Linked DNA regions of Homo sapiens: regions 2, 3 and 4 are each linked to region 1. Evidence: fine-mapped expression QTL. A gene starts in region 1. Each other region holds a variant in brackets. All regions are shown on one strand. Distances are between the middles of the regions.

Region 1 (8,100 bases):
TCTTAACAATGTTTCATTCCTAGGGAAACAGCTAGAAACAATAGATCCTCAGTGGCCACAGAACTTAGTTGCAGTTGGAGACACCACACATTGTAACAAATTGTCCTGTGTTCTTTTGCAGCCATTGATAGCTGTTTCCTAAACAACCTCCTTTTCCCCCCAACCCTACCTCCTTTCTTCTCTTCTATTCCTCCTATAAGATCTCCAGGAGAGCCACAGAGCCAGTCAGCCCCAACAAGAGCTCTCTCCACATTCCCTCAGAGTGGGGACTGAGGCCCCAGGTGATCTGCCCTCAAGCCAAGTGGTGACTGACATCTCCCCAGATACAGTATCTACCTGCATCTTACTCGGGAAACCATCAGTTGAGCCAGAGCTCTCTCTAATGAGCAAGGGAGCTTCTAGGGTTGTTATTTGCTGCAAGACCCTAGGGCAGTGTTGACTCAGAACGTATATAAGATCCTATATTAACAGGGAAATTGGGGAAAGAACTCAGGCACTCTGGTGCCTTTTCTAGAAACACCTCTAAGCCTATCAAATAGAAGGGCTTAAATCAGTTGGAGATTTATTCCTTCTCTCCTCCCCAGGGGAGGAAAATGTCCAGATTGATGGTTAAGCAACATCTCATTGCTCTGGCCTTAAGAAAGAGACTTGAATGGTTTTGCCTCTGGCTCTCAGTGTTGCCAGAGGCATTCTCCTAAGGGCTTCTTTGGGAGACTCCAAAATGAAAGAGATTTAAGGCTCTCAAAAGTGCTCAGTCATAAGAAATGCTGGAATCACGACCAGTTGCTAATTTAACATTGTCCATAGGGATTAAAACAAGAAAGGTGAAGCTCCTAAATTCTGAAGGTGGGAAGAGAAGATGTCCAAGTTGAGACCTCTGACCCTCCTCCCCTCACCCTCCTTGTTTCTCAAGACAGAGGAGTTCTGATATCCCCACATCGACATGGTCATTCTTTCAGCTAAGCCATCCACCAAAGGGCCCAGTAAAATAAGTTACCATCTAGTCTCTGTGAGCCACATTTATCTGCCCAAGGGCACAGCACACACCCATGGGCAGGTCACCAAAAAAATGTAGCAGGCACAGCCTTCACTTTGGGATGGAATTCTGCTCCTTGCAGTAGCAACTGAGGATAACCAAGCAGAGGCAATCGGGTCAAACTCTGGGCTTCAGGAAACCTACAGGGGGTGCTGAGGCTGGAAGGAGCTTGCAGGAGAGAAAACTACTTGTGAAGACTATCCTCTTGGGGAGAAAGGGTGGAGAGAGGCATCCACAGACTGCCTGGGGAATGCTATCCCTGCTCCTCATCCCTCAGCTGCAACTGAAGTTCTGCTGGATCCTCAGAGGGGCTAGACAACAGATGTCGCCCTCCCCTCACAAATACAAGAGCTCTTCCTGGTATGCAGATGAACTGATCTGCACCTGGCCTGTTCTGTCTCTGCGGCTGTGACACATATGTAACCCAAGGAATGCTACCTTCCCCATCCTAAAAAAGTACTGTTGCCCACAGGTGGTACCTAGAAAAACTGAGATCCTGACAAAGGGGCTCTTCTCAGTTGCATTTCACTGTAGCACCTGGAGGATTTCTGGAAACAAAAGCTCAATGAACCAGATCTCACCATCTTCAGAAGACCTAAGAGGTCCTGAGGGAAACAGCTAAAACTTGGCCTACCAGCCCTTCTGCATAACTACCCTTCAAGAGCGAGCTGTCAGAAAGTTTCCCACACCAGAAGTCCTGGCTCACCACCCCTTAGAGAGTAGCAGTGCAGGGCCCCTGGATCTGCAGAGCTCCCTGCTTTCCCTTCCCAACTTAGGCTCATAGTGACAGAGGTGAAAAAGCCTGCAAAGCGCATGTGTGTATCCAGGGGGCAGGGCCATGCCATCAGGCCACACCAACAGGTCCCTGAAAGAGCTGAGCTAAGGGCAGGTCGGGGACAAACTGGGAACTGTCTCCCTCATTACAGCAGCCTCAAGACCGGGCTCTCTTTTCTGGCCTGGCCTCGATGTCCCTGGCAAGGAGGGATGGGTAGGACTGGTGTTGGAAGGTGCAGAATTCTTGGCACTTCATGGCATCAGTAGGGGGGCCTGAAGCAGGCTGGACGGGGGATGGAACATGAAACATATCTTCAGCCTGATTTCATTCTAAGAGCATTTTGTTGACTGGTATGTGCAGCACCCTGGAATGTAGAGTAACAGAGCAACACACACCTGTGTGACTTGGGTTGCACGGGAGCTTCATCTTCCTCTGTAACGAAGAAGCCTGGTCTGGCCAAGGGGTCAGGTCAAAATAGTTTTGTGGATAACAACCTCTCTTTTCCTCTCTTTCCAATGAGCTCTCTCCTCCCTTTCCAATAAACTCTCTCCCTGAGTAGTTTCCCTTGTGCTAGCCTATGATTGCTCAACACAAACCCTAGAAAGCCAATGGTTTAGTACCATGTTCCCATGCCTCCCAGGTAGAGGGGTTTGATTCTTTTGTGGCTGGCAGGGGTGGGACAGGCAGCCAAGCAAATGACTCAAACAGAAAAGCTCTTTCAGGGAAAGCTGACTCTCCAGCACAGCACACTTCAAAGCCCACAAGCACAAGGTTCCAAAGCTCTCAACCCCCAGCATTGACAGTCCTGCATCTCAGTACCCCCAGGTTCTTCCCAGCCCACTAGGCCTGAAGCAACCAAAGAGAAATGCCTGAGAAAAACCCCAACCGGGAGGCTGGGAGGGGCTGGTGTCCTCTGTAAGATCCTACCTTATTAAAAGAGCAGTGAGTACCTGGAGGACTAGGTCAGGAGGACAGGGAGGCTGCTTACCCCAAAGCCAGGTGTAGAACTTGCAGGTAGGAATCAAAGTGATCCCATACAGGGCTCCCAAGTGTAGCAGAGACATAAGGATGATGTTTCTCCAGACATATTCAACCTTGGGGCTTGGGCCTTCCTTATCCTTGTAGGTGGGGTCATATATATCATCTTTTATATCAGGGCGAATGTCGTCTTCCAAGTAGAGGGGCATCGTCTCCAACTTATCTCCTCCATTCTGCAGGACCCTGGAGGGAGGCGCTGTAATGGTGGTGGTGGTGGTATAGGAGCTAGAGATCTGGAAGGGGGAGGAAGAGGAGAGTCAGGAGAAGAGACACGTGGAGGCAGCTGGGGCCACTCCGCTCTCTAATCACGCTGGGGGAAGGGTGGACAGTACGGACCCTTCCGCAGCGCCGTAGTTCACTGAGGGTAGGGTGTATCCGAGACGCAACGGAGAAAAGTTCCCTGAAACTGTACAGATACATTAGGGGCGGAGGGCGAGGGGGACGAGGGGCGCGAAACCTATCGGGAGGCGGCAGTAGGAAGGAGAAGTAAAGCACTCACATCCCCACGAAGACAAAGGAAAACCCGCATAATTCATAAAAGCACCAGCACGACCGGATTTTTCTTTAAAGCTTAAGAAACTAAAGTTGGAGACTCAAGTCCCCAAATTACAATCCACATTCCCAACTCACGGAAGGCAGCACAACTCGAAAAAGATGACCAAGTCCTCCGCGGAGCTCTCCCCTCTCTTCTGCCACCAACCCGTCCCCTGGAAGCCCAGCCCGCGCCTGCGACCCGGCGGTACGGGGCCAGGCTGGGAAACTCACATCGTCCTGCAGCAAGTGGGCCGGCATCTTGGCTCTCGGATGCCGGGATCACTTTCCAGGGGGCTGAGGCTCCGGAGCGGAGTTCGGGGTCGCCGGAGGACTGCGGTTTCGAAGCCCGCCGGTACGCGCTGAGCCGCGGCGCCTTGCACGCTAGCTGGTTGTCGGCGCTAGCCGCGGTGCGTGGAGGTCCCCGAGCCGGGAATTTAAAGGCTAGAGCTGGCAACGGGTGACCGTGTCCGGTATTTCCTCAGCCCCCTTTTATCCGCTGCCAAGCAGGGGCAAAGTGCGAGGAGTTGACTGGCGCGGGCGGTCCCGCGTGGAGGTAAGGGCGGGAGGGGGAGGAGACAGAGGCCGAGGCTCGCGGCGACCGCAGCAGGGCGCCGGGGATGCTGCCGACACCGACACCACACCACCCGGCCTCTGCCCCTGCCCCTGCCTCTGGGGAAATGCTAATGAGGCTTCTGTAAACTCCGGCTCGTCATTGGCCGAAGGGAATTTGGTGCCACCTCGTCCTGCCGTTGCCATTGGCTCGGCGCAATCTGCTGTTCCCTCTGCCGCCAGCTCCTCGCTCCCCCTCCCCTCTGTTTCTCCTTCTCAGCTTCTCTTCCACCCGCCGCTGGGCCTCTGCCCGGCATCCCGCGTCGGGAGCTTTCTCTCTGGAAGGGGCTGGGGACCCGGTTTGGGGCTGGGGCGCGGAGCCTAGCCCAGGACCGGCCCTCGGGCACACGGAGAACGGGTGGGTGGGCACTGGGGAAGTTTCTCAGGAAACAGTGGTGAACCCTCGGGGGGCGCCCACCACTAACATCTCCGTCCCGTCTTCCGTCCCCCCAGGCGCGTGGCAGGGAGACGTGGCAGCCACCCCAGGATCTGGAGCTTGGGGGACGCGGGAAGCCCCGCCTCCCTCCCGGGCGAGCGCGGGGGACTCGGTACGCCTGCGAACAATGGCTCTGCCCCGCCCACCAGCCACGCGCTGCTCACCCGGGACCGCACCGGACTCCGGCCGCACACACAGGCTGGCTGGTGTGTGTGTGCCTGCGCGCACGCATCCTGTTCAGGACCCGGGCGGGCAGTCCCATCCCCAAGCCCGCGCCTCCAGGATGCGTGCGGGATGTTTTGGAGATTCTTCAGACTGGCAGGTTGTAATTTTGGAATCTTCTTTGTGGAAACCGTCAGGAAACACTGACATGTGTTTTCACCCAGCAGCAGGCGAAAGGGCTTGGATGTGGAATAAGAATAGCTGGCAGGTATTGAATTATTACTGCAAGCCAATTCACAAGAATCGTTTTCTGTAAGCCTCTCTGTGACCCTGGGAGGTGGGTACCCCATTATTCCATTTTAAAAGTGAGGAAAGAGATATGGAGAGATGGAATAACTTGCCCATGGTCACAGCAACCAGTAAGTGATGGAGCTGGCAGTTGAGCCCAGAAACACCATATGAGAGCCCAAGCTCTTAATCCCTGCTCAGGACCATATTGCCCTCGGTCCCTGAGATGCTCTGACCCTACTGATCTGTCCCTGTGCCCCCATCTTTTCCGTGTCTGTAGGAGCCTTACCATGAGAGCTCAGAACCAGGCAGGCTATGCATTCACCCGGTGTCCTTCCATGCCCATGTCTTTCCCAAATACTGCCCTAGGATCCTTCCCCTGGGAAGAGGAGAAAATACGGAGTGCTGCGCCAATGATTCACTTCCCAGGAAGACAAGCACCTGGGATTTCCTGGGAGGTAGACTAAGCAGCTCCTTTGTTGGCCACTGGTCTCAGGGTCAGGCCAACTCTCTGGCCAGTGACCAGGAGACTGCATTCCAGTCCTGGCTCCCTGTCCGGTGTGAAAGTTCTGAACAAGACTGGATGATTTCAGATGTGGACAGCTCATCCAGTCATGCCTCAGAAGTACTTGGCATGTGGCACAGAAATCTGTACGTGGTCTGACCCCCTTCAGGTTCTCTCTGCAATGTCTAATTTGCTTAATTCTTTTGTTTTTTGTTTTTTTGAGAGGAAGTCTCGCTCTCTCCCCCAGGCTGGAGTGCAGTGGTGTGATCTCGCTTCACTGCAACCTCTGCCTCCCGGGTTCAAGAAATTCTCCTGCCTCACCCTCCCAAGTAGCTGGGATTACAGGCATGCGCCACCACACTTAGCTAATTTTTTGTATTTTTAGTAGAGACGGGGTTTCACCATGTTGGCCAGGCTGGTTTTGAACTCCTGACCTCAGGTGATCCACATGCCTTGGCCTCCCAAAGTGCTGGGATTACAGGCATGAGCCACCACGCCTGGCCCGGAGAATATTTTCATTCTATTTCTCTTTCGAGCAGAGATCACCTCTACTCCTGAGGCCCTGGTCACACTGTGGTTCTCAAGTGACAGTGGTCAAACCAACACACTGATTTGGATTCTAAGATTTATTTTTTTTGGTCTGGGGGCCCTACCTCAGCAAAAGGAACAATAGTTACAACAATTATGACAGCAAAAAGTTTGAGACCAGCTTGGCCAACAAAGTGAAATCCCATCTCTACTAAAAATACAAAAATCAGCTGGGCATGGTGGGAAGTGCCTGTAGTCCCAGCTACTTGGGAGGCTGAAGCAGGAGAATTGCTTGAACCCGGGAGGCGAAAGTTGCAGTGAGCTGAGATCACACCACTGCCCTCCAGCCAGGGTGAAAGAGCAAGACTCTTTCTCAAAAAAAAAAAAAAAATTGTGATTTTTTATTATTTTGTTTACAGCCAAGCTCCTTAATTTTGGTATTCAAAGTGCTTCATGATTTTACTCTGAACGCCCTATTCCAGCCTTAATTCTCACTTCTCACTTAGTATAACTTGTATCTTCATCAAACTGCACATTTGTCAACAGAATATAAAATAAAACTCCGAAAAACCCCTGCACTCTTGCTGATTTCTAAACATGCTTCATTTTCCCAAGTTTTTCTTCCCCTGAACTCTGCCTGTCAAAATATTACCCGGGATCCAGCAATTCCACTCCTAGATATAAACCCAACAGAAATGAAAACATATGCCCACACAAATGTATACATGAATATTCACTGGAGTATTATTCATAATGGTCAAAAAGTGGAAACAACCTAAATGTCTGTCAACTGACTAATGAACAGATAAGATGAGCACTTTGGGAAGTGGAGGTGGGGGGATCATGGCAACATAGTGAGACCTTGTCTCAACAATAAAAATACAGCCTGAGCAACATAGCAAGACCTCCTCTATACCAAAAATCATTTTTTAAAACTTAGCTGGGCCTGGTGGCACAAGCCTGTAGTCCCAGCTACTCAGGATGCTGAGGCCAGCGGATTGCTTGAGCCCAGGAGGGGAGGCTGCAGTGAGCTATTATTACGCCACTGTACTCCAGCCTGGGCAACAGAGTGATACCCTGTTTCAAGAAAAAAAATATCAGCCAGGCATGGTGACACGTGTTTGTAGTCCCAGCTACTTGGGAGGCTGAGGCAGGAGGATCACTTGAGCCCAGGAAGTCAAGGCTGCTCAGCTGTCACCATGCCACTGCCCTCCAGCCTGGGTAACAAAGTGAGACCCTATCTCAAAACAACAACAACAAAAAAGAAAGAAAATGAATACATAAAATGAAAATTAAAAAAAAAAATTAGCCAGGTATGGCTGTGTGTGCCTGTAGTCCTAGCTACTCTGGAGGCTGAGGTAGTAGGATCACTTGAGCCCAGGAGTTTGAGGTTACAGTGAGCTATGATTGTGCCACTGCACTCCAGCCTGGGTGACAGAGTGAGAACCTGTCTCTAATAATATGATATGGGATACCCACACAGTGGAATACCATTTGAGAATAAAAAAGAATGAAGTACTGCTAAGTACTGTAACATAATGAGCCTTAAAAATAGAATGCTAAGTGAAAGCAGCCAGTCACAAAGTCTCACATGTTGTTTGCTTCCATTTATATGAAATGTCCAGAATTGGCAAATTTATAGAGACAGAAAGTAGATTGGTGGTTGCCCAGGGCTTGGAAGGAGGATGGAGGATGTTGGGGGGTGATGGCTAAGGAATGCAGGGTTTATTTTTGGAGTAATAAAACTGTTCTAAAATGGATTGTGATGGATGCACAACCTGTGAATATACTAAAAGCCATTAAATTGTATGATTTAAATGGATGAATTCTATGGTATATAAATTATATCTCAATAAGAAAAGTATAAAAAAAAAAAAAAACTAAAGACTGGGCATGGTGGCTCACGCTTGTAATGCTAGCACTTTTGGGAGGCCGAGGCGGGTAGATCGCCTGCGGTCAGGAGTTCCAGATCAGCCTGGGCAACATGGTGAAACCCCGTCTCTACTAAAAATACAAAAAATTAGCCCAGGGTGGTGGCGGGCACCTATAATCCTAGCTGCTTGGGAGGCTGAGGCAGGCTGAGGCAGGACAATCGCTTGAACCTGGGGGGTGGGGGTGGAGTCTTGCTCTGTTGCCCAAGCTGGAGTGCAGTGGCACGATCTCAGCTCACTGCAACCTCCACCTCTGGG
Region 2 (8,108 bases), 250 kb before region 1:
TGGCACGATCTCCGCTCACTGCAAGCTCCGCCTCCCAGGTTCATGCCATTCTCCTGCCTCAGCCTCCCGAGTAGCTGGGGCTACAGGCGCCCGCCACCGCGACCGGCTGATTTTTTGTATTTTTAGTAGAGACCGGGTTTCACCGTGGTAGCCAGGATGGTCTCGATTTCCTGATCTCGTGATCCGCCCGCCTCGGCCTCCCAAAGTGCTGGGATTACAGGCTTGAGCCACCGTGCCCGACCAGAGTGATTTGTTTTTAACGCAGCCTGTTTATGCCAGCTGCACATACTATTCTTATCTAATTTAACTAAATGTTACATAAACCAATAAAATACAAGTGCAAAACTAATGTTGCTGTTTGGAAAAATTCCATAACACCAACTTGCTTAAAGTTTTTGTTATCAAATTATGTATTGGTGAGACAACTGGAAAAGATGAGGAACAATCATAAAAAAAAACCTAGGAATTTCACTCATATTGGTTCTCAAATACTTTCCAATTCCCAATCAATGTTAAAGAAATCAAAGCTGAAAATGGCAGTCAGCACATTCTGGGTGTAGCTCATTAAAGAAAGATGAGGCTGGGTGTGATGACTCATGCCGGTAATCCCAGCACTTTGGGAGGCCGAGGCAGGTGGATCACCTGAGGTCAGGAGTTCGAGACCAGCCTGGCCAACATGGTGAAACCTCGTCTCTACTAAAAATACAAAAGTTAGCCAGCTATGGTGGCGGGCACCTGTCATCCCAGCTACTTGGGAGGCTGAGGCAGGAGAATCCATTGAACCCGGGAGGCGGAGGTTACAGTGAGCCCAGATCGCGCCACTGCACTCCAGCCTGGGCGACAAAGTCAGACTCTGTCAAAAAAAAAAAAAAGAGAGAGAGAGACGAAAGAAAGAAAGAAAGGGAGGAAGGAAGGAAGGGAGGAAGGGAGGGAGGGAGAAAGAGAGGGAAGGAGAGAGGGAGAAAGAGACAGAGAGAGAGAGAGAAAGAAAGAGAGAAAAGAAAGATGATGGTGAAATGTCAATCAGTGCATCCATACACAAAGAAAGGTCTTGGTCCTACATGAACAAAGTGGACAGCAAATATTCCTTTATTTGTTTTAAGTTAAAATTAAAAAAAAATTATGGTATGTAAAGGCAAACTGTGAAGTGGCCCCAGCCCTCCAGAAACGTAGGGTTTAGAGAGGGAAACTGATAAGAAAGTTATTGATCTTACTGGATTATAATGGAGGTTAATGGGACAGAGGGGAGGGGATGCCTAACTAGAGCAATGGCTGTAGAGGATTCCTGGATGGGCTGGTCTCTAAACCGGCTCTGCTCTCCCTCACATCTATCCCACAGCTCCTTTCAAATCTTCCTGCAGCATAAAAACTGAAGACTTGCCTTCTAGCTTTGTCCAATGGCCCCCTTAATTTCAGAACCCCCCACCCGCCTCTTTTTTTTAAAGACAGCGTCTCTTTCTTTCACCCAGGCTGGGGTGCAATGGCACAAACACGGCTCACTGCAGCCTCTACCTCCTGGGCTCAAGTGATCCTTTTGCCTCGGCCTCCCTTATAGCTGGGACCACAGGCATACACCACCACGCCTGGCTAATTTTGTTATATTTATTTATTTGTCTGTTTGTTTATTTATTTATTTTTGTAGAGATGTGGGTCTCACTTTTTTGCCCAGGCTGGTCTTGAACTCCTGGTCTCAAGCAATCCTCCTGCCTTGGCCTCCCAGAATGCTGAGATTACAGGTGTAATCTCATGCCTGTAATCTTACGCCCACATCCCAGTATTGACATAATCTCCAAGAGTGTTAGAGGGGAAATAGCTGTTTTCCCTGGCATTAAAGGGGAGCCTCAAGGATCACAGAATGCTTTTGGGAATTTCCATACGTGCATTTACTTCAACCTTTTTTGATTCTTTTTTTGTTTGTTTTGTTTTTTTGAGATAGAATCTTGCTCTGTCTCCCAAGCTGGAGTGCAGTGGTGCGATCTCGGCTCACTGCAACCTCTGCCTCCTGGATTCAAGCCATTCTCCTACCTCAGCCTCCCAAGTAGCTGGGATTACAGGCATGCATCACCATGCCCAGCTCATTTCTGTATTTTGGTAGAGACAGAGTTTCACCATGTTGGCCAGACTGGTCTCGAACTCCTTGCCTCAAGTGATCCACATGCTTCAGCCTCCCAAAGTGTTTGGATTACAGGTGTGAGCCACCATGCCCGGCCTTTTTGATTCTTGATATACTATTTCAGCTGTGCTCCATCTCTCAGGGTGAGGTCTATGAAGAACTTGTGCAAAACAAGTTGTACTAATTTTCTTTTATTGTTTCTTAAAATTAATCTTTCTATTTTGAGGCAATTTTAGATTCATGTGCAGTTGCAGGAAATAAAACAATACCCTTTGCACAGTTTCACCTGCCTAATGGTAACATCTTACAAAACTGGAGCACAGTATCACAAGCAGGACATTGACATCAATAACAGCCAAAGTACAGAACATTTCGATCACCACTGGGATCATTTCTGTTGCCATTTTGTAGCCACACCTTCTTCTGCCTAGCCCTCACTCCCTTCGTAGCCACTGGCAACCACTAATCTGTTCTCCATTTTTATAATTTTGTCATTTCAAGAATATCACATAAATGAAGCCATACAATACGTAACCTTTTTTATTTTTTATTTTTTGATAAAAAAATAAAATCTCACTCTGTCACCCAGGCTGGAGTGCAGCGACGCCATCTCGGCTCACTGCAACCTTAACCTGGGTTCAAGCAATTCTGGTGCCTCAGTCTCCCAAGCAGCTGGGACTACAGGTGCACACCACTACACCCGGATAGTTTTTTGTATTTTTAGTAGAGATGGGGTTTTGTCATGTTGCCCAGACTGGTCTCAAACTCCTGACCTCAAGTGATCCGCCTGCCTCGGCCTCCCAAAGTGCTGAGATAAAAGGTGTGAGCCACCGCGCCCGGCCAGTGTGTAACCTTCTGAGACTGGATTTTTCACTCAGCATAATTTTCTGGAGAATCTAGGTCTAGGTCACTGCATGTACTATTACTTCATTCTTCTTTATTACTAGGTAGTATTCCTTGGCATGGATGTACCACCATGCACCATTCACCCACTGAGGGATATCAGGATTATTTCCGGTTTGGGGTTATGATTAATAAAGCTGCTATGAACA[G/A]TTGTGTACAGGTTTTGTGAGGACATCATTATAAACACCTAGGAGTACACTTGCTGGATCCTATGATAAGTGTATGTTTAATTTTTTTAAGAAACTGCCAAACTATTTTCCAAAGTGACTATACCATTTGACATCCCCACCAGCAATGTGTCAGTGACCATCCCTGCATTCTTGCCAGCATTTGGGATTGTCACCTACATTTTTTTTTCTGTTTTTAAGAGATGGGGTCTTGCTATATTGTCCAGGCTGGAGTGCAGTGGCTATTCATAGGTACAATCCCACTACCAACAGGCGTGTATGATATCTCACTGGGTTTTTTAAAAAAATTATCCTAATGAGCTAATTTTTCTGAACATCTTTTCGTGTGATTATTTGCCATATGTATATATCCTCTTCAGAGAAATGTCTCTTCATGTCTTTTGCCCATCTTCTAATTGGTTTATTGGTTTTTGTTTTGTTTTTACTGTTGAGTTTTAAATGGTCTTTTTAAATTTATTTATTTATTTATTTTTTTCGAGAGAGAGTCTCACTCTGTTGCCCAGGCTGGAGTGCAGTGGGCGTGATCATGGCTCACTTCAACCTCCACCTCCCGGGCTCAAGCAATCCTCCCACCTCAGCCTCCCAAGTAGCTGGAACTACAGGTACGCACCACTAGGCTTGGCTAATTTTTAAAATTTTTTGTAGAAATGAGGTCTCACTATATTGCCCAGGCTGGTCTCAGGCAATTCACCCACCTCAGCCTCCCAATGTGTTGGGATTACAGGTGTGAGCCACTGTGCCTGGTCTAAATATTCTTTATATATTCTAGATATTAGTTCTTTGTTGGACATGTGGTTTGCTAATATTTCATCTCAATCTCTAGTTTGTCTTTTCATCCTCTTAACAGAGTCTTTCATAGAGCTAAAATATTAAAATTGATAAAGTCCAATATATCAATTTTTCCTTATATGGATCATGCTTTTATTTTTAAAAATTTTATTTTAAAAATTTTATTTTAAAAAATTTAATATCTTCATGACTTTTTTTTTTTTTTTTTTTTTAGAGACAGGGTCTCACAGTGTTGACAAGGCTGGTCTCAAACTCCTGACCTCAAGCAATCCTCCCACCTCGGTTTCCCTAAGCACTAGGATTACACGTATGAACCACCATGCCCAGTTTCTGGCTCATACTTGTGGTATCAAGTCTAAGAATTCTTTGCCTAGTCCTAGATTCTGATGATTTTTGCCTATGTTCTTTACTAAATGTTTTATAATTTTATATTTTACATTTGTGCACTTGAGTCTGTGATTCAATTTTTTTGTTGTTGTTTGGTTTTTGTTTGTTTGTTTGTTTGTTTTGAGACAGAGTTTTGCTCTGTCACCAGGCTGGAGTACAGTGGTGCGGTCTCGGCTCACTGCAACCTCCGACTCCCTGGTTCAAGCAATTCTCCTGCCTCAGCCTCCTGAGTAGCTGGGGTTACAGGCATGTGCCACCATGCTCAGCTAATTTTTGTATTTTTAGTAGAGACGTGGTTTCACCATGTTGGCCAGGATGGTCTTGATCTCCTGACCTCATGATCTGCCCACCTTGCCCTCACACAGTGTCGGGATTACAGGCGTGAGCCACCATGTCCAGCCTGTGATTCATTTCAAGTTAAACTGTGAATAAGGTGTGAGACCTTAGGTTGAGGTTTTTTTCCTTTTTTTGGTGGGGGTGGGGGCAGGGGGTAGCTACAGATATCCACTTGCTCCAGAGCCATTTGTTGAAAAGACCATCTTTCTTCCATTGAGTTATTTTTGTACTTTTGCCAAAAATCAGCTGGGCATATTTGTGTGGCTGTATTTCTGGATTCTCTATTCTGTTTCATTAATCTATGTGTATATACCTCTACCAATCTCTTGGTTACTATAGCTTTATCCTTCTTTTTCAAAATTGTTTTTAGCTATTTTAGCTCCTTTGCCTTTAACAGATAAATTTTAGGATAATCTTATCTATATTTGCAAAACATCTTGCTGTGATTTTCACAGGAATTTTGTTAGACCTGTATATCAACTTGGGAAGAATCAACATCTTTATTGTATTGAGTCTTCCAATTTTTTTTTTTTTTTTTTTTTTTTTTTTGAGACAGCGTCTCACTCTGTCACCCAGGCTGGAGTGCAGTGGCATGATCATGGCTCACTGCAGCCTGGAACTCTTGGGCTGTGGAGAGATGATCTTTCCACTTCAGCCTCCTGAGTAGCTATGACTGCAGGTGTGCATCACCATGCCTGACTAATTTTTTTGTATTTTTTGTAGAGATGGAGTTTCGCCATGTTGCCCAAGCTGGTCTCCAACTCCAGGACTAAAGCGATCTGCCTGCCTCAGATTCCCAAAGTGCTGAGATTACAGGGGTGAGCCACCACACTTGGCTAAGTCCTCCAATCTGTAAATATGGTATGTCTCTTCATTTATTTATTGGATCTTCTTTTATTTATTTCATCAGCATTTTGCAGTTTTCAGTACACAAGTTCTGCATGTTTTGTTGTATTTACATCTGAGTATTTTATTTTACTTTTGAGTGACTGTAAATAGTGTTTCATTTTTAATTTCAGTGTCCATCTGTTCATTGCTAGTATGTAGAAATACAATCGATGTTTTTGCATATTTATCTTGTATTCTTCAACCTTGCTGAACTCACTTTTTAGTTCTAGAACTTTTTTTGTAGATTCCTTTGGATTTTCTCAGCAGAAAAGAATGTCTTCTTTTCTGATCTGTATGCTTTTTTTTTTTTAACAGAATCTTGCCAGGCTGGAGTCCAGTGACATGTTCTCAGCCCACTGCAACATCCACCTCCCAAGTTCAAGCGATTCTCGTGCCTGTCTCCCGAGTAGCTAGGACTAGAGACATTTGCCATCACGCCTGGCTAATTTTTGTATTTTTGGTAGAGACAGTGTTTTGCCATGTTGGCCAGGTTGGTCTTGAATTCCTGGCCTCAAGTAATCTACTCGCCTCGGCCTCCCCAAGTACTGAAATTACAGGTGTGAGCCACTGTGCCTGGCCTGATCTGTATGCTTTTTATTTCCTTTTCTTGTATTATGGCACCGGTTTAGATATTCCAATTTGATTTTGTCAAATGCTTTTTCTGCATCAACTGATATGATTATGTGATTCTTCTTCTTTAGTCTGTTAATAGGGTAAAGTACATTAGTTGATTTTTGAATATTGGATCAGCCTTTCATCCTTGGAATAAACTCCAACTACTCATGGTATCTAATTTTTATTATATATTGCTGGGTTCTATTTGCTAGTATTTTCTTGAGTGTTTCTACATTTATTTTCATGAAGAATATTGGTCTGTAATTTTCTTTTTTTTCTTTTTTTCATACCATCTTTGATGATGGGTAATATTAGTTTCATAAAATTAATTGGAAAGTGTTCCCTCTTCTTCTATTTTCTGGAAGAGATTACATAATGTTGTTCCTTCTTCTTTAAACATTTGTTAGAACTCTCCAGTAAAACCATATAGGCCTGAAGATTTCCTTTTTGGGGAGTTTTTAAATTATGAATTCAATTTCCTTAATAGAGGGCTATTCAAATTATCTATTTCCTGTTGGGGGAGTTGGGGTAGTTTGTATTTTTAAAGAAATTTGTCCAGTTCATCTAAATTGTCAATATTTATATGTGTAGTTTTTCATAGTATTCCATTATCCATTTGATGTCTGCAGGGTCTGTAGTGATATCTCTTGTTTTATTCTCGATATGGGTAATTTGTGTCTTCATTCTTTATTTTTTGTCAGTCTTGCTAGAGGATTATTAGTTTTATTGATCTTCCAAAGAACTAGCTCTTTGTTTCACTGATTTTCTCTATCATTTTCACATTTCTAGTTTTGTTGGCTTTTGCTCTTTTCTTTATTGTTTCCTTCCTCCACTTGCTTTGGATTTCCTTTGCTCTTCTTTTTCTAGATTCATGAAGTAGAAGCTTAGATGGTTGATTTGAAATTTTCTTCTTTTCTAATGCATAAATTTGGTGCTATAAATTTTCCTGTCACCACTGCTTTAGCTATGACTCACAAATTTTAAGATGTTGTATTATCATTTTTGTTCAGTTTGGTGTATCTTTGTGACTACCTCTTTGACCCATGGATTATTTACAAGTGTGTTGTTTTGTTTCCAAGTGTTTGAAGATTTTCTTGCAATCTTTCTATTATCAATTCAATTTTTTAAAAATTCCATTTGTGGTCAAAGAACACACTCTATATGATTTCAATTCTTTTAAATTTGCTGAGTTTGTTTAATGGCTCAGCATATGCTCTATCTTGGCATATGTCCTATGGGCACTTGGAAAAAATGTGTATTTTGCTGTTGTTGAATGGAGTGCTTTATAAATGTCAATGAGACCCTAATAGTTGATGGTATTGTTGAGTTATTTTGGTTTTCTATCTATTTAGTTCTATCAATTGTTGAGGGTGTGTTGAAGTCCTCAACTATGTATTTGTCTGTTTCTTCCTTCAGTTCTATCAGGTTTTGCTTCACATATTTTGCAACTCTGTTGCTTGGTGCATAGACATTTAGGATTGTTATGTCTTCTTGATGGATTGACACTGTTATAATTACATCACGTCCCTCTCCATCTGAGATAATTTTCTTTGCTCTAAGGTAGACCTTATCTGATATTAATGTAGCCATTCCTATTTTGATTCACATTTGTATGATATATCTTTTTCCACCCTTTTTCTTTCAGTCTGCTTATATAGTTATACTTGAAGTGAGTTTCTTATAGGCAGCATATAGTTGGATCATAAATACCAATCAATTCTGCCAAGCTATGTTTTTTAGTTTATGTACATAGGCCATTTATATTTAATGTAATTATCAATGTTAGGGCCTAAGTCTGCCACTTTATTTTTTGTTTGCTGTTATTTCTGTTTTTTATTTGTTTTCTTTTTCCTGCCTTTCTGGGGTAACTTGAACATATTTTAGAATTC
Region 3 (8,108 bases), 350 kb after region 1:
TTAAGTAAGGATTTTGCTTTGATTAAAGATGTTGAAAACAGTTATGAAAATCTTTTGGGTTGAATTTTATTTTTTTAATTTAGTTGGAGTCTCGCTTTGTCACTCAGGCTGGATTGCAGTGGTGCGATTTCGGCTCACTGCAACCGCTGCCTCCTGGTTTCAAGTGATCCTCGTGTCTCAGCCTCCTGAGTAGCTGGGATTACAGGCGGGTGCCACCATGCCTGGCCAATTTTTTATTTTTAGTAGAGACGGGGTTTCGCCATTTTGGCCAGGCTGGTCTCAAACTTCTGACCTCAGGTGATCCACCTGCCTTGGCCTCCCAAAGTTCTGAGATTACAGGTGTGAACCACCGCCCCCAGCCTTTGGGTTGAATTTTACCAACATGTTCAAACGTTATTCTTGTATCCCATAGGTGGGATTCAGGCTTGGTGAATATTCTCTTCTTGTGATTCCAAACGTTTAAAAATTAAAATATAATTATTATTCACAGTAAGTGTTGATGAGAGGTGATTTGCTAGTTTACTGATTGTTTTCCCTGCAGTGATCAGCTAACAATAAAAATAGCACTTCATGTTCACAACTGTTCACAGGTAGCAATAATACATACAGGAGATAATGTATTTGAAAAGCAGTCTGTAAATGTAATTGTACTGTAATAATGTGTCCACGTGGCCTTGCAGAGAACTGCCCATTGTAGATCAATGCCTACTGTGCCTGACGTGGCAGCACCTGGGTGACTCCACTGTCCCTTCTTGAAGACAGACGTGTTTATTATTTTGGCAACAGCCACTGGCCCCAAAAGGCAAAGATAATCAGACAGTGTTTATATAGTTGCTCTTCCAGATTGTTTGTCACATTCTTATAGAATAGCCTGTCTCTCTGTGTATTCACTTTTATTTCTGTCCATCATAAGACACAGGTGCTCCAAGTCACATATCTGCAACCACTCTGGCCCACCAGCACTTCAAAGCTCACCCCATGAAATGCCCCCAACAAGCCTGTTTGGTCATGACTTAAACAAAATTGGATGTCTTTTTCCTAGATTCCCCTGCCAGTATTTTGGTGAGGCTAGAGCTTAGTGTATATGGTAGGTAGAAGGGTGTCAAGAAATGAGGTCAAACTTGTATGCCGGGACTAGCTCATGACAAGCTTTGTATGATCTGCAAACAAGTTTTAGACACTTCCTGCAAGTGATGGATGGGGAAGCCTTAGAGGAACTTCAGGCGGTAAAGATGTATAAGATTTCTGTTTTTGCCAGGTGCCGTGATCATGCCTGTAATCCCAGCAGTTCAGGAGGCTAAGGTGGGTGGATGGCTTGAGCCCAGGAAGAGACCAACCTGGGCAACATGGGGAAATCCATCTCTACAAAAAATACAAAAATTAGCTGAGCGTGATGGCCCACGTCTGCCGTCCCAGCTACTTGGGAGGCTGAGATGGGAGGATTGCTTGAGACTGGGAGGTCAAGGCTGCAGTGAGCTGTCATCGCACCACCGCACTCCAGTCTGGGCAACAGAGTGAGACTGTCTCAAAAAAAAAAAAAAAATTGTTTTCAAGCTGGGCACAGTGGCGCATGCCCAGCTGCTTGGGAGGCTGAAGCCATAGGATCACTTGAGTAGGAGTTTGAGTCCAGCCTGGGCAACATAGCAAGACCCTGTCTCTTTAAACAAACAAACAAAACCATTTTTAAGAAGATAATCCTAGTTGGGTGTGGAAAATAGGACAAAGGCAGATAAGATTGGTAGGTAGCCATTTAGGAAGCTATTGCAGGAGCCCCAAAGAAAAGATGATGAGAATCATAGTTTGATGTGTTTAAAGGATTTAACAGTAATGCCAATGTTTTTCCTAGAAGTACAGGATATGTTTTAGAACAGTCAGTAAATTGATTTCATATCCCTCTTCTATTCCTGGAAGGCATTTGGCAAAGGCTTTCCTGGACCCATATGCAGGGATCTCATTTATAAACTTCTGCCAAATCCTTGTGGGTCTGCTGTGAAGACACAGCTCATTTTAGAGCTTAGAGTAGAGGGGCACGTCAATTGCGTTGTCCTGGTGACCAGTAACCACAGAGTCACATGACTCCCCCTTCCTCTCAAGAAGACAGCAGCAGTTTTGAGAAGTTGGCCCCGCCTAGAGCCTGCTGTCTCATCCCTATTATTTATGTTCCCCTCCGCCTGGGTGATGATGGTCATAATCGTCATCACCCGCCATTGTCATCACTGTTCTCATTGCTGACATTTACTGAGTACTGTATGTACCATTTGCCAGGAAATGTATTAAATGTTTTACCTACATTATCAAATTTAATCCTTATACGCCCTATGAAATAAATTACTGTTATTATCTTCCATTACAGATGAGGAAACTAAAGTTCAGAGGGGTTTAAGTAACTTGCCCAAGGTCACATAGCTTGATAAATGGCAGAGCCAGAAATTGAAACTAAATTCTGTCTGACTGGAGTCTGGGCTCCTAACTGTTATGTAGTTATTACTTAATACAATTCAGTAGCAAATATGACTTCTCTTTAAATTTGCTCTTTTATGTAGCATCATCCACCCAGTGAAAGTTCACTTAATCAAACACTGTGTTTGTTACCTACCCTCCATGCCCATCCTATAACAGGCATAAAACACAAGTTTAAAGTATCTATTAAAACATTAAGTGTAGGAAAAACTTTGTAGGGGAGGGGAGGTGGATGTGGGTGGCAGAATAGGGAAGCTATTTAAATTTCTAGCTTTTTTCAAGGCAGAATATTCATGTATGCCTTCTCTATTTTTTTTCTACCTTCACAGTTTTTTTAAAGACAGGGTCTTGCTTTGTTGCCCAGGCTGGAATGCAGTGGCATGATCACAGCTCACTGCAGCCTCAAATCTCCCAGGCTTAAGCGATCCTTCCACCTCAGCCTCCCAAGTAGCTAGGACTACAGGTGCACACCAGCATGCCCAGCTAATTTTTAATAAATTTTTGTAGAGACAGTCTCACTATGTTGCCCAGACTGGTCTTGAACTCCTGGCCTCAAGTGATCCAACCCCCTTGGCCTCCCAAAATGCTGGGATTACAGGCATGAGCCAACATGCCTGGCCTGCCTTCACTATTTTGTGTGAAGTATAGAGATTTCGGAAAGAGGAGAGACACTTACTTTTAAAAATTGAGATACAATTCACATACCATAAAATTCACCTTTTAAAAGTATATAATTCAGTGGTTTTTAGTATATCCACAAAGTTGTACACCCATTCACCACTAATTCCAGAGCATTTTCATTACCCCCAAAAGAAACTTCATACCCAGTAGCAGTCAGTGCTCATTTTCCATTCCTGAGACATTCATTTTCAAACATATTAAATACCAGAATACATCCCAATGCTATGAAAAAGGTTTTGGGAGTGTCTATCTACAATTCCTCTCTCTTTAATGCAGATAATGATAATAGCTGACACTGGTGTAATGCTTACTATTTGTGAGGTACTATTTTCAGTGCTTTACATATATTAATTTCATTACAACCCTATGAGCAGGTTTTATTTTTATTTTTATGTTGAATCTTTATTTTTATTTTTATGTTGAGTCAGGGTCTTGCTCTGTAGCCCAGATTAGAGGGTGCAATCACCACTCACTGCAGCCTTGACCTCCTGGGCTCAAGTGATCCTCCCACCTCAGCCTCCTGACTAGCTGGGGCTACAGTTGCACACCACCATGCCCAGCTAATTTTTTGTATTTTTTGTAGAGACCAGATTTCACCATGTTGCCCAGTCTGGTCTTAAAACTCCTAGACTCGGCCGGATGCGGTGTCTTATGCCTGTAATCCCAGCACTTTGGGAGGCCCAGGCGAGTAGATCACGAGGTCATGAGATCGAGACCATCCTGGCTAACACGGTGAAACCCCATCTCTACTAAAAACACAAAAAATTAGCCGGGCTTAGTGGCGGGCGCCTATAGTCCCAGCTACTCGGGAGGCTAAGGCAGGAGAATGGCGTGAACCCAGGAGGTGGAGCTTGCAGTGAGCCGAGATCACGCCACCGCACTCCAGCCTGGGTGACAGAGCCAGACTCCGTCTCAAAAAAAAAAAAAAAAAACTCCTAGATTCAGGCAATCTACCTGCCTCAGCCTCCCAGAGTGCTGGGATTACAGGCGTGAGCCACTTTACCCAGCCAGGTTCTATTATTAAACCCATTTTACAGATAAGAAAGTTAAGACACAGAGAATTAACTTGCTCCAAAGAAGCAAGTAAGTAATTAAGTAATTGTTTTAATAAAAAGTTAAGTAATTGCTGTAATAAGGGATGGAGCTGCCATATAGATCTAGGTAGTCTGGCTCTATAGTCTGTGCTCTTAACTATTACATTTTGTTTTGTTTTGTTTTTGAGACGGGATCTTGCTCTGTCACCCAGGCTGGAGTGCAGTGGTGTGATCTCAGCTCACTGCAGCCTCAACATCCTGGACTCAAGCAGTCCTCCCACTTTAGCCTCCCAAGTAGCTGGGACAATAGGCACATGCCACCTCACCCGCCCAATTTTTGGATTTTTTGTTTTAGAGATGGGGTCTCACTATGTTGCCCAGGCTGGTCTTGAACTCCTGAGCTCAAGCCATCTGCCCCCTTGGCCTCCTAAAGTGGTGAGATTACAGGCATGTGCTACTGCTCCCAGCTTAACTTACATACGCTCTAAGCTGATCATATTTCTTTTTTTTTTTTTTT[TTG/G]AGGTGGAGTCTCGCTCTGTCACCCAGGTAGGAGTGCAGTGGTGCAATCTCGGCTCACTGCAAACTTCGCCTCCTGGGTTCACACCATTCTCCTGCCTCAGCCTCCCGAGTAGCTGGGACTACAGGCGCCTGCCACCACGCCTGGCTAACTTTTTGTATTTTTAGTAGAGATGGGGTTTCACCATGTTAGCCAGGATGGTCTCGATCTCCTGACCTTGTGATCCGCCTGCCTTGGCCTCCCAGAGTATATGGGGTCTTTTGTGATTGGCTTCTTAGCACAATGTTTTCAAGGTCTTCATGATGAAGCTGATCATATTTCTATTTTAAAATGATATGAAGACCTTGAAAACATTGTACTAGGAAGCCAATCACAAAAGACCACATATTACATGATTTCATTTATATGAAATGTCCCAAATAGGCAAATCTATATATAGAGAAAGTAGATTAGTGTTTGCCTAGGGCTGGAGAGGAGAGGGGATGTTGTGGGGAAATGGGAAGTGACTGCTAGTGAGTATAAAATTTCTCAGACCGGCCGCGGTGGCTCACGCCTGTAATCCCAGCACTTTGGGAGGCCGAGGTGGGCAGATCACGAGGTCAGGAGTTTGAGACCACCCTGGCTGACATAGTGAAACTCTGTCTCTACTAAAAATACAAACATCAGCCGGGCATGGTGGCACGTGCCTGTAGTCCCAGCTACTCAGGAGGCTGAGGCAGGAGAATCGATTGAACCCGGGAGGCAGAGGTTGCAGTGAGCCGAGATCACGCCACTGCACTCTAGCTTGGGCAAGAGAGTGAGACTTCATCTCAAAAAAAAAAAAAAATTCTTTATGAGGTTTTGAAGTTCTAAAATTGATAGTGATAATGGTCACACAACTCTGAATATGCTAAAAACTCATTGTACACTTTAAATGGGTGAATTGTATAGTATGTGAATTATGTCTCAATAAACCTGTTTTTAAAAAATGAGATGAAGAGAAACAACCAGAATAATGATGTTGCTTAGAATATCTTTGCCTTCACCTGGAAAAAGCTATATATATATATATATATGTGTGTGTGTGTGTGTATATGTATATGTGTATATATATATATGTGTATATATGTGTGTATATATGTGTGTATATATGTGTATATATGTGTATATATGTGTATATACATGTGCATATATATGTATATTTGTGTGTATATGTGTGTATATATGTGTGTGTATATATATGTGTGTATATATGTATATGTGTGTATATATATACACTTATACACACACTGTCTTTCTTGTCCTTTTTTTTTTTTTTATTCATTAATTTGGGGTGTTTAGTCATTTGCAACCAATCCTATTTTTTATTTTTTTTTTTGAGACAGGATCTGGCTTTGTCACCCAGGCCGGAGTGCAGTGGTGTATCTCAGCTCACTGCAACCTCTGCCTCCTGGGTGGAAGCCATCCTCCCACCTCAGCCTCCCGAGTAGCTGGGACTATGGTTGCACGCCACCATGCCCAGCTAATTTTTGTATTTTCAGTAGAGATGAGTTTCACCATGTTGCCCAGACTGGTCTCAAACTCCTGAGCTCAAGCCATCTGCCCACCTTAGCCTCTCAAAGTGCTGGGATTACAGGCATGAGCCACCACGCCTAGCCAGCCAATCCTAATTTTAACCATTGTATCTGCCTACTAAAAAATCTTCAGGTGCCGCTAATTGCCCAAAAAACAAAACCCAACCTTCCTAACCTGGAAATAAGTCCTGTGAAACCTCATGTACCTCTGTGGGAAAGAATAGTGTGATCACTGGGAATGTGAATGTACGTTTTGATGTATAAATTAAGACAGTTCAGTATGTTAAACCATTCATCATGCAAATATTTACGGAGGGCTTACTGTGTATCAGGCAGAACTCTAGGTGCTTGATTGACATCAGTGAATAAAATAGACAAAAAGAATCCCTGCCCTGTAGGACATACAGGAAACAGGGATGGATCCAAAAGAGAATAGTTAACTCAGATGGTAAGAGTTATGTATGGGTTTAATAGAAGAGGGGGCAGTTTAATAGAAGAGGGGGTACATAGCAGTTTAATAGAAGAGGGGGTACATAGCAGTTTAATAGAAGAGGGGGTACATAGCAGTTTAGCTGATCTGAGCTAGACTAGGTTGAATCCTATAGTCTTCCATTTGGGTTCAAGTCTGTTTTTTCTTTTTTTTGAGACAGAGTTTCGCTCTTGTTGCCCAGGCTGGAGTGCGATGGCGCGATCTCGGCTCACTGCAACCTCCGCCTCCCAGGTTCAAGTGATTCTCCTGTCTCAGTGTCCCAAATAGCTGGGATCACAGGTGCCCACCACCACACCTGGCTAATTTTTGTATTTTTAGTAGAGATGGGGCTTCACCTTCTTGGCTAGGCTGGTCTCGAATTCTTGACCTCAGATGATCCACCTGCCTCAGCCTCCCAAAGTGCTGGGATTACAGGCGTGAGCCACTGCGCCTGGCCTCAAGTCTGTTTTTTCTTGTCTTCATTCTGGGGCCCAGGCTAAAGAGCCAGGGGCTTTCAGGGCATGCTCTTCTAATGGCAGATTACAGGAGCACCAGAGGACAGGCCAAACCATAAAATAATGGCTGAAAGCCTGTGCTTATGCCATCTCCACTCCACTCCAAGTCCTACCAAAATGTGACAGGGAAACATACTCTGCCTGTAGTGGGAGGCACTGCATGATTACACAGTAAAGGGTATGGATATGCAATTCTATATTTGTATACTATTAATGATATACATAATGATATACATTATTATACACATATAATTACACATCTTGTAAGGATATATAATTCCTACAAGAGGGTGAGGATTATTGAATAGCAGTTCTGTCTACTAGCGTATATATTATAAGAATAAGAAGTAGCTGAAAAAGTTTGAATATAGAGGTGAATGGACATGGGTATAGAAAGGGCTAAAAGTTGGCTGGGTGCAGTGGCTCACGCCCATAATCTCAGCACTTTTGGGAGGCCGAGGCAGACAAATCACTTGAGATCAGGAGTTTGAGACCAGCCTGGCCAACATGGTAAAACCCCATCTCTACTAAAAATACAAAAATTAGCCGGGTATGGTGGTTCATGCCTGTAGTCCCAGCTCCTCGGGAGGCTGAGGCAGGAGAGTCACTTGAACCCAGGAGGCAGAGGTTGCAGTGAGCCAAGATTGAACCACTGCACTCCAGCCTGGGTGACAGAGCAAGACTCCGTCTCAAATAAATAAATAAATAAATAAAAATAAAAATAAAATTGTCAGAGATATCAAGATATTGCTAGAGGAGTGGGGACAAATTGTGAATTATGGTGGTTAAATGATGCACTGATCTTTGTCTCGTTTCAGTGTTGCTAGTATGAATTCTAATTCATAACACTATGGTGTAAAGACATTAGATATTTACTTA
Region 4 (8,108 bases), 71 kb before region 1:
TCAGTCTCACAAAAAAAAAAAAAAAAAAAAATTAGCCATGTGTGGTGGTGCACGCCTGTCATCCCAGCTACTAGGGAGGCTGAGGCAAGTAGCTGAACCTGGGAGTCAGAGGTTGCAGTGAGCCAAGATTGCACCACTGCACTCCAGCCTGGGCAACAGAGTGAGACTCTGTAAAAATAAAAAATAAAAATAAAAATAAAAATAAAAAAAAAACTAAACTCATCCCCCAAACCTCTTCTTCATTCTCCATGTCCCAAACTCAGTGAGTGATATCACCATAAACCCGGTTGCTGAGAAATACAATGTAACCAACAGTTTTGTTTTGTTTGAGACAGGGTCTGGTGTGATCATGACTCATTGCAGCCTCCACCTCCCAGGCTGAAGCCATCCTCCCACCTTAGCCTCCCTAGTAGCTTGGACTACAGACATGCACCACCACGCTTAACCAATTTTATTTTATTTTTCTGTAGAGGTGGGGTCTCACTATGTTGCCCAGGCTGCTCTCAAACTCCTGGGCTCAAGCGATCCTCCCTCCCTGGCCTCCCAAAATGCTGGGATTACAGGCGTGAGCCACCAAGCCCAGCCAACACATAGCTTTTTTTGTTTTGTTTTGTTTTTTGAGATGGAGTCTCACTCTGTCACCCAAGCTATAGTGCAGTAGCATAATTTTGGCTCACTGCAACCTCCACCTCCCAGGTTTAAGAAATTCTCCTCCCTCAGCCTCCCTACTAGCTGGGATTACAGGCGTCCACCACCACAGCCTGGCTAATTTGTTTGCTTTTTAGTAGATATGGGGTTTTACCATGTTGACCACGCTGGTCTTGAACTCCTGACCTCAAGTGATCTGCCCACCTCAGCCTCCCAATGTGCTGGGATTACAGGCATGAGCCACCATGCCCGGCCTTAACACATAGTTTTTATTTTATTTTTTGAGACAGAGTTTCGCTCTTGTTGCCCCAGGCTGGAGTGCAATGGCACGATCTCGGCTCACTGCAACCTCTGCCCCCCAGGTTCAAGTGATTCTCCTGCCTCAGGCTCCAGAGTAGCTGGGATTACAGGCACCCACCACTATGCCTGGCTAATTTATATATATATATATTTTTTTTTTCTTTCTTTCTTTCTTTTCTTTTCTTTCTTTTTTTTTTTTTTTTTTTTTTTTTGAGACGGAGTTTTGCTCTGTCGCCCAGGCTAGAGTGCAGTGGCGCAATCTCGGTTCACAGCAAGCTCCACCTCCCGGGTTCACACCATTCTCCTGCCTCAGCCTCACCCTCCCGAGTAGCTGGGACTACAGGCATCTGCCACCACGCCCGGCTAATTTTTTTTTGTATTTTTAGTAGAGACAGGGTTTCACCGTGTTTGCCAGGATGGTCTCGATCTCCTGAGGCCTCCCAAAGTGCTGGGATTACAGGCATGAGCCACCGCGCCCAGCCTTAACACATCGTTTTTAAACACCACTATGTGCCACACACCCTGCTACAGCATGTACCTAAGTAAGATGTTCAAGATAAATCCCTGTCCTAGGGTTGTTTATAATCTTGTGGGGAAGGCAGCTAAACAAATACTTGCACAAATAACTACTTAGTCATAATTGAAAGCGCTACCAAGGAAAAGGTAAGGAATCATCTTTGACGCTTTCTCCTCCTGCATTGAATCACCAGGTGCTGTTAATTCTAACTCCGAAGTCTCCAGATTGTCCTCTTCTCTCCACTTCACTGCTATCAGTATCTCAACTTAGACTACCGAAATACCTTCCTAACTGGCTCCCCTGTGTCTATCCTTGCCCCCACAGTCTATTTACCATGCTAGATCCATAGTGATCTTTTAAAAATGCAATTCTGCGTGTCACCTTCCTGCTTAAAACACTTCATTGGTTTTCTATTGCCCTTGGGATAAAGTCTACACTTCTTACCATGGCTTGAGAGGCCCTCTATGTCCTGGTCCCTCCTTGCTTATATCTTTACCTTACCGCTAGCCACCCTTCTCCTAGTTCTATTTCTGTGAGGCCCTACTTTTAGGGCCTCACTGTATACTTTTCCCTCTGCCTAGAGCACTCTGCTGCCTCCTCTCTCTTCTCCCACTGACTTTTCACTTAGCTAATTCCTCTTTTCTTCAAGTCTCCAAAAAGATTACCAGGTCAGCTTCCCGTATTATACCCTCTCCTAGCCCCTGTGGTTTCTGCTTTTGTAACATTCATCATATTTGTACTGTGGTGCTCTATGAGGACCGGTACCATGATTGTCTAGTTCACTGCCATCTCCCTAGCAGTACCTGGCCCAAGGCAGGCATTCAATAGATATTTCTTTTCTTTTCTTTCCTTTTCTTTTGAGACAGAATCTCCCTCTGTCACCCAGGCTGGAGTGCAGTGATGTATTCACAGCTCACTGAAACCTCGAACTCCTGGGCTTAAGTTATGCTCCCGCCTCCCAAGTAGCTGGGGCTACAGGCATGCAGCACCACACATGACTAACTTTTTTAGTTTTTGTTTTTTAGAGACAGGGTCTCGCTATGTTGCCCTGGCTGGTCTTGAACACCTGGCCTCAAGCAATCCTCCTGCCTCAGCTTCACAAAGTGCTGAGATTACAGGCATGAGTCACCATGTCCTGCCTCAATAGATCTATCTTTCTTTCCTTCCTCCTTCCTTCTTTCCTTCCTTCCTTTCTTTCTTCCTTCCTTTCTTTCTTCTTTCTTTCTTTCTCTTTCTTTCTTTCTTTCTTTTTCTTTCTTTTCTTCTTTCCCTCCCTCCCTCCCTCCCTCCCTCCCTCCCTCCCTTCCTTCCTTCCTTCCTTGCTGATTAAGATGAGGTCTGGCCACGTTACCCAGGCTGGTCTCGAACTCCAAGGGTCAAACGTTCTTCCCACCTCAGCCTCCCAAAGTGCTAGGATTATGGGTGTGAGCCACTGTGCCCAGCCTTCAGCCTTCTCAATAGATTTTTTTTTTTAAGCTACTGTATTGCTCTGTCACCCCAGGCTGGAGTGCAGTGGCATGATCTCGGCTCACTGCAAAGGGGTTCAAGCAATTCTCCTGCCTCAGCCTCCTGAGTAACTGGAATTACAGGCACACACCACCATGCTCATCTAATTTTTGTATTTTTAGTAGAGACAGGGTTTCACCACGTTGGCCAGGCTGGTCTTGAACTCCTGACCTCAGATGATCCACCCACCTTGGTCTCCCAAAGTGCTGAGATTACAGGTGTGAGCCACCGCGCCTGGCCAGGAGATGTTTAAAGGACT[C/G]TATCTTAAAAGCCTGCTGTCTTTCAGGCAATAGATGTGGTTTGTTTTGTTTTGTTTTGTTTTCAGAGATGGGGTCTCCCACTTTGTTGCCCAGGCTGGACTTGAACTCCTGGACTCAAGATATCTTCTCCCCTCAGCCTCCCGAGTATCTGGAAATATGAGCTCGTGCCTCCAGCCCAGCTCCATGTGTGTACTTAAACACTTACTGGAAGCTATACCACTGTGGGGTTTTGGGGGTGTTTTACTTCCCAACCTGTGTAGGGGAATTGCTTTTTTCCAGCAGGTATTTGGAACCTCAAAGTCGCCTTCAATCACGCTATATAAGCACTAACTCTACACATAATTTTTCTTTTTTCTTTTTAAATTGTGCACGTGTGAGTGTGGAGATGGGAGTTCCACCATGTTGCCAAGGCTGGTCTCGAATTCCTGAGCTCAAGCTATCTGCCCACCTCTGCCTCCCAAAATGCTGGGATTGCAGGCATGAGCCATTGTGCCTGGACTTTTCTTTACTTCTTTCCTTTCCTTCCTTCTTTCCTTCCTTCCTTCCTTCCTTCCTTCCTTCCTTCCTTCCTTCCTTCTTTCTTTCTTTCTTTCTTTCTTTTTCTTTCTTTTTCTTTCTTTCTCTCTCTCTCTTTATCTCTCTCTCTCTTTCTTTTTTTCCTTTTCTTTCCTTTCTTTCATTTTTTTGAGAGTTGCCCAGGCTGGAGTGCAGTGGCATGATCTTGGCTCACTGCAACCTCTGCCACCTGGGCTCAAACCATCCTATCACCTCAGCCTCCCAAGTAGCTGGGACTACAGGCATGTGCCACCACATCCAGCTAATTTTTGTATTTTTTTGTAGAGACGGGGTTTCGCCATGTTGCCCAGGCTGGTCTTGAACTCATGGGCTCAAGTGATCTGCCCACCTCAGCCTCCCAAAGTGCCAGGATTATAGGTGTGAGTCACGGCACCCATCCTACCTATAATTTTTAAACAAAAGGCAGAAACTAGCCAGGCAAAGATAGTAGAGACAAGATAGTAACAGATTTCACCCTACAATTTTTTTTTTATCCTAGCTCAGCTGGTCATTTGCCATATGAACTAGAGAAATCCCTTTCTTAGTTTTTCCACATTAAGTGGATATCATAGTATGAGCTTATTTTACCAAAGAGAAAAAATAATAATAATTAAAACGTAGTGCCGGCTGTGGTGGCTCAAGCCTGTAATCCCAGCACTTTGGGAGGCCAAGGCAGGCAGATCACCTGAGGTTAAGAGTTCGAGACCAGCTTGACCAACATGGAGAAACCCCGTCTCTACTAAAAAATATACAAAATTAGCTGAGCATGGTGGTACATGCCTATAATCCCAGCTACTCGGGAGGCTGAGGCAGGAGAATTACTTGAACCCGGGAGGTGTAGGTTGCAGTAAGCCGAGATTGCGCCATTGCACTCCAGCCTGGGCAACAAGAGTGAAACTCCATCTCAAAACAAAAAACAAAAACGTAGTATAAGAACCCTTATTGTTTTTCAGATTTAAAAGAAGTGTTTTCTAATGTTGAATTAACATTAATTCAGATTATTCCCATATTCTCCATTATGAAAGTAAATCAATATTGTTCTTTCTCTTCCTCTGCATTTTCACTCCTTCCCCTTCTTGCTTTCCTCTTGCTTCTCCTGCCCTCCTCTTTCCTCCCTCTTCTGCCCTTCCCTTCTTCCCTTCATAAACAACTTTAATCCAAAAGCCTAATGGTAAGCAAGGTAGATGTCTTCATGACAGGAGTGGTTGTGGGGACGAGTGGTGCTTAAAATCAGGTGCTGGAGTCTAAGCAGAGGAGAAGCGACCAGGCAGGGGTGGGTAAAGAGAGCAGCCATGTGGAGGGGAAGCTGGTGTGCATGGCTGGATCCCAAGTGCTGTGAGGAGACATCCATTTGCTGAAGAATAGGATAGTCAATAGTCGGAAAGTATCTCCCCACCAAATAATTAGTAAGTACCCGTCCTCCGCCACCTTAATCAATTGAACCAAATTACTATCCCCAGTAATGGGACAAATATAAATCACGTGCCACCGGATGGGATGCAGTGAGAACACAGCATCGGTGCCTTGGTGACAGTTCTGACAAAGATGCGTAAGCTGAGTCTCATCATGAGGATACATTAGTCAAGCCCACATTGAGGGATGTTCTAAAAAACAAGTGGCCATTAAGCTAGAAATGTCAAGATTGTGAAAGTCAGGAAAAGACTGTTCTAAATTGAAGGCAACTAAGGAGACATGATGACTGTATGCAATGCATGATTCCAGATTGGATTCTTCTGCTAAAAAGGACATTCTTGGGACGACTGAACGAGGCCTGAGTTTATGGTTGTAATGTGGTTATATAGGAGAATGCTTGTTGGAAACACACGCTAAAGAATGCAAAGGTGTGAGTTTCTATCTTTTTGAGAGAAAATAATAATAAAAAGAAAGAAAGAATACAAACATGATGGGCTAAACTGGCAACTAGCTTTCAAATGGTTCAGAAAAAGATAAGGTTCTTTGAACTGTACTTGCAACTTCTCTAAAGTTTGAGATTGTCTATATTAAAAAGATAACATCTACAGTTGATATTAAAAATTAACAAATAGAGGCCAGGTGTGGTGGCTCACATCTGTAATTCCAGCCCTTTGGGAGGCCGAGGTGGATGGATCACCTGACGTCAGCAGTTCAAGACCAGCTTAGCCAACATGCTGAAACCCCATCTGTACTAAAAATACAAAAATTAGCTGGGTGTGGTGGCACAGGCCTGTAATCTCAGCCACTTGGGAGGCTGAGGCAGGAGAGTCGCTTGAACCTGGGAGGCAGAGGTTGCAGTGAGACGAAATTGCGCCACTGCACTCCATTCAGCCTGGGTGACAGAGCAAGACTCCGTCTCACACACACACACACACATACACACAAAAGACTAGGAACTTGGAACCCCAAAATATCTTGCCCAAATGTCCCCAGATCCACTTCCAGAGCCTGCGTGGACCTCTTCCCTGGGTCTGTCCTCCCAAGGATGTATTGTACCCCCTGTGCACACCTCACTAGACCCAAGGGGGTGGCTGCTTGATTGTTGTGGAATGAGACTTAAACATGGGACCTGCAGAGTTCACATGAATGAGCATCAGAACTCTCCTGGTGTGGACAGAGCTGGGGCAGAGAGTGAAGGGGTCTGGAGGCTGGTGCTGGGGCCAGCTCGTCCCACACCACCACATTCTGGTGTGGGACTCTCAGGAACTTGAGAATTCTAAACCCAAATCTAGCCTTCTAGGTTATGAAGGCATATGTGTCAAGGGAAAGGGAAAGAATATATCTTTCTCTTATTTTATTTAACTGTTTCTTAGCTCGATTTGAAAATTTTTAATATTTAAACACATCTTTGTTCTTTTGTGCTCCTGCAAATGGTGGTTTGAAAATCCTCATGGCGACCTTTGTTTTCTACCTTATCATCATGAAAAGAAACATTAGGAAAGTGTAATTTAAAAAGCCCACTTGACCTGTCTGTGCCTTTCGTTACAATTTTTTTTTTTTTTTTTTTTTTGAGATGGAGCCTCGCTGTGTCGCCCAGGCTAGAGTGCGGTGGCACAATCTTGCCTCACTGCGACCTCCACCTCCCAGGTTCAAGCAATCCTCCTGCCTCTGCTCCCGAGTAGCTGGGATTATAGGTGCCCACCACCACACCCAGCTAATTTTTTGTATTTTCAGTAGAGCCGGGGTTTCACCATGTTTGTCCGGCTGGTCTCGAACTCCTGACCTCAAGTGATCCACCCACCTCAGCCTCCCAAAGTGCTGGGATTACAGGAGTGAGCCTCTGTGCCCTGCCTTTACAATATTTGTTATACTTCTCATAAGCATTTCATAAGTCAAGTTGGCATAGGAATAATTCGGCCATGGAAACAACCAGTATGTGCCAAGCAGTCACTTTAGAGAAGGTCAGTGACTGGAGATGGCACCACCTGGTTAAATGAGACATCACTCTCTTTCGCACTTAAGGATGGGCATGTCATTATCTCAACTCTATCCAGATTGATCAGAACTGCTGCGTGATCTACCAAGTGATTCACTTTGGTCTACAAAAACGAAGGTATCATGTTCAATTTACTGATGCTTCATGTTTTCATGTCTTTTTTTTTTTTTTTTTTTTGAGACAGGCTCTCCTTGAGTCACCCAGGCTGGAGTGCAGTGATGTGATCTCGGCTCACTGCAACCTTTGCCTCCTGAGTTCAAGCGATTCCCCTGCCTCAGCCTCCTGAATAGCTGGGATTACAGGTGCGTGCCACCACAGCCCAGCTAATTTTTGTATTTTTAGTAGAGATGGGGTTTCACCATGTTGCCCAGGCTGGTCTTGAACTCCTGACCTCAGGTGATCAGCCCGCCTCTGCCTCCCAAAGGGCTGGGATTACAGGTATGAGCCACCACGCTCGGCAGATGCTTGATATTTTCAAAATTTGGCCAAAATTTGTATTTTTGTGAAAAGTCTGAATTGAAACTAATCTGATTCTGTCTCTCCTTTCCTCCCTTCTTTCTTTTTCTCCTATCTTCCCTCCTTCCATCTTCCATTTATTTGCTCCACAAAAAGAAAGCTATTGGGAATTTCTTCTGTCTTGGAACGTAAACAGACTTTTTAGGAAGAAAGCAAATTAGTTTATAGACCCAGAGTCCAGGACTTTTGCTTTTTTCTTTCTTGCTTTTGTTTTTAAAAAATGTTTTATGGGCTGGGTGCGGTGGCTCACACCTATAATCCCAGCAGTTTGGGAGGCCGAGGCAGGAGGATCATGAGATCAAGAGATTGAGACCATCCTGGCCAATGTGGTGAAACCTCATCTCTACTAAAAATAAAAAAATAGCTGGGCGTGGTGGCGTGTGCCTGTAGTCCCAGG

Evidence for each region. PIP is the estimated chance that this variant, and not a neighbour inherited with it, causes the effect.
Region 2: its variant is fine-mapped to the expression of SCD in whole blood (TOPMed, PIP 0.97).
Region 3: its variant is fine-mapped to the expression of SCD in whole blood (INTERVAL, PIP 0.97).
Region 4: its variant is fine-mapped to the expression of SCD in whole blood (INTERVAL, PIP 0.94).

The regions. Positions count from the first base shown.
Region 1 is chr10:100,343,046-100,351,145 of GRCh38, reverse strand. SCD (stearoyl-CoA desaturase) reads right to left here and starts at 3,913. Exons shown (of 6, transcript NM_005063.5): 1 at 3,615-3,913; 2 at 2,800-3,082. The coding sequence starts at 3,641. RefSeq lists enhancers at 3,549-3,788, 4,169-4,238, 3,887-4,478 and silencers at 4,019-4,068, 4,269-4,648.
Region 2 is chr10:100,589,496-100,597,603 of GRCh38, reverse strand. No RefSeq gene overlaps it. Among named protein-coding and RNA genes, the nearest start is that of HIF1AN, 58 kb to the right of the region's middle. The variant G/A (reference allele first, on the strand shown) is at 3,166.
Region 3 is chr10:99,988,492-99,996,599 of GRCh38, reverse strand. All of the region lies in intron 1 of DNMBP (dynamin binding protein), which reads left to right. Among named protein-coding and RNA genes, the nearest start is that of DNMBP, 17 kb to the left of the region's middle. The variant TTG/G (reference allele first, on the strand shown) is at 4,693.
Region 4 is chr10:100,414,144-100,422,251 of GRCh38, reverse strand. No RefSeq gene overlaps it. Among named protein-coding and RNA genes, the nearest start is that of OLMALINC, 45 kb to the right of the region's middle. The variant C/G (reference allele first, on the strand shown) is at 3,231.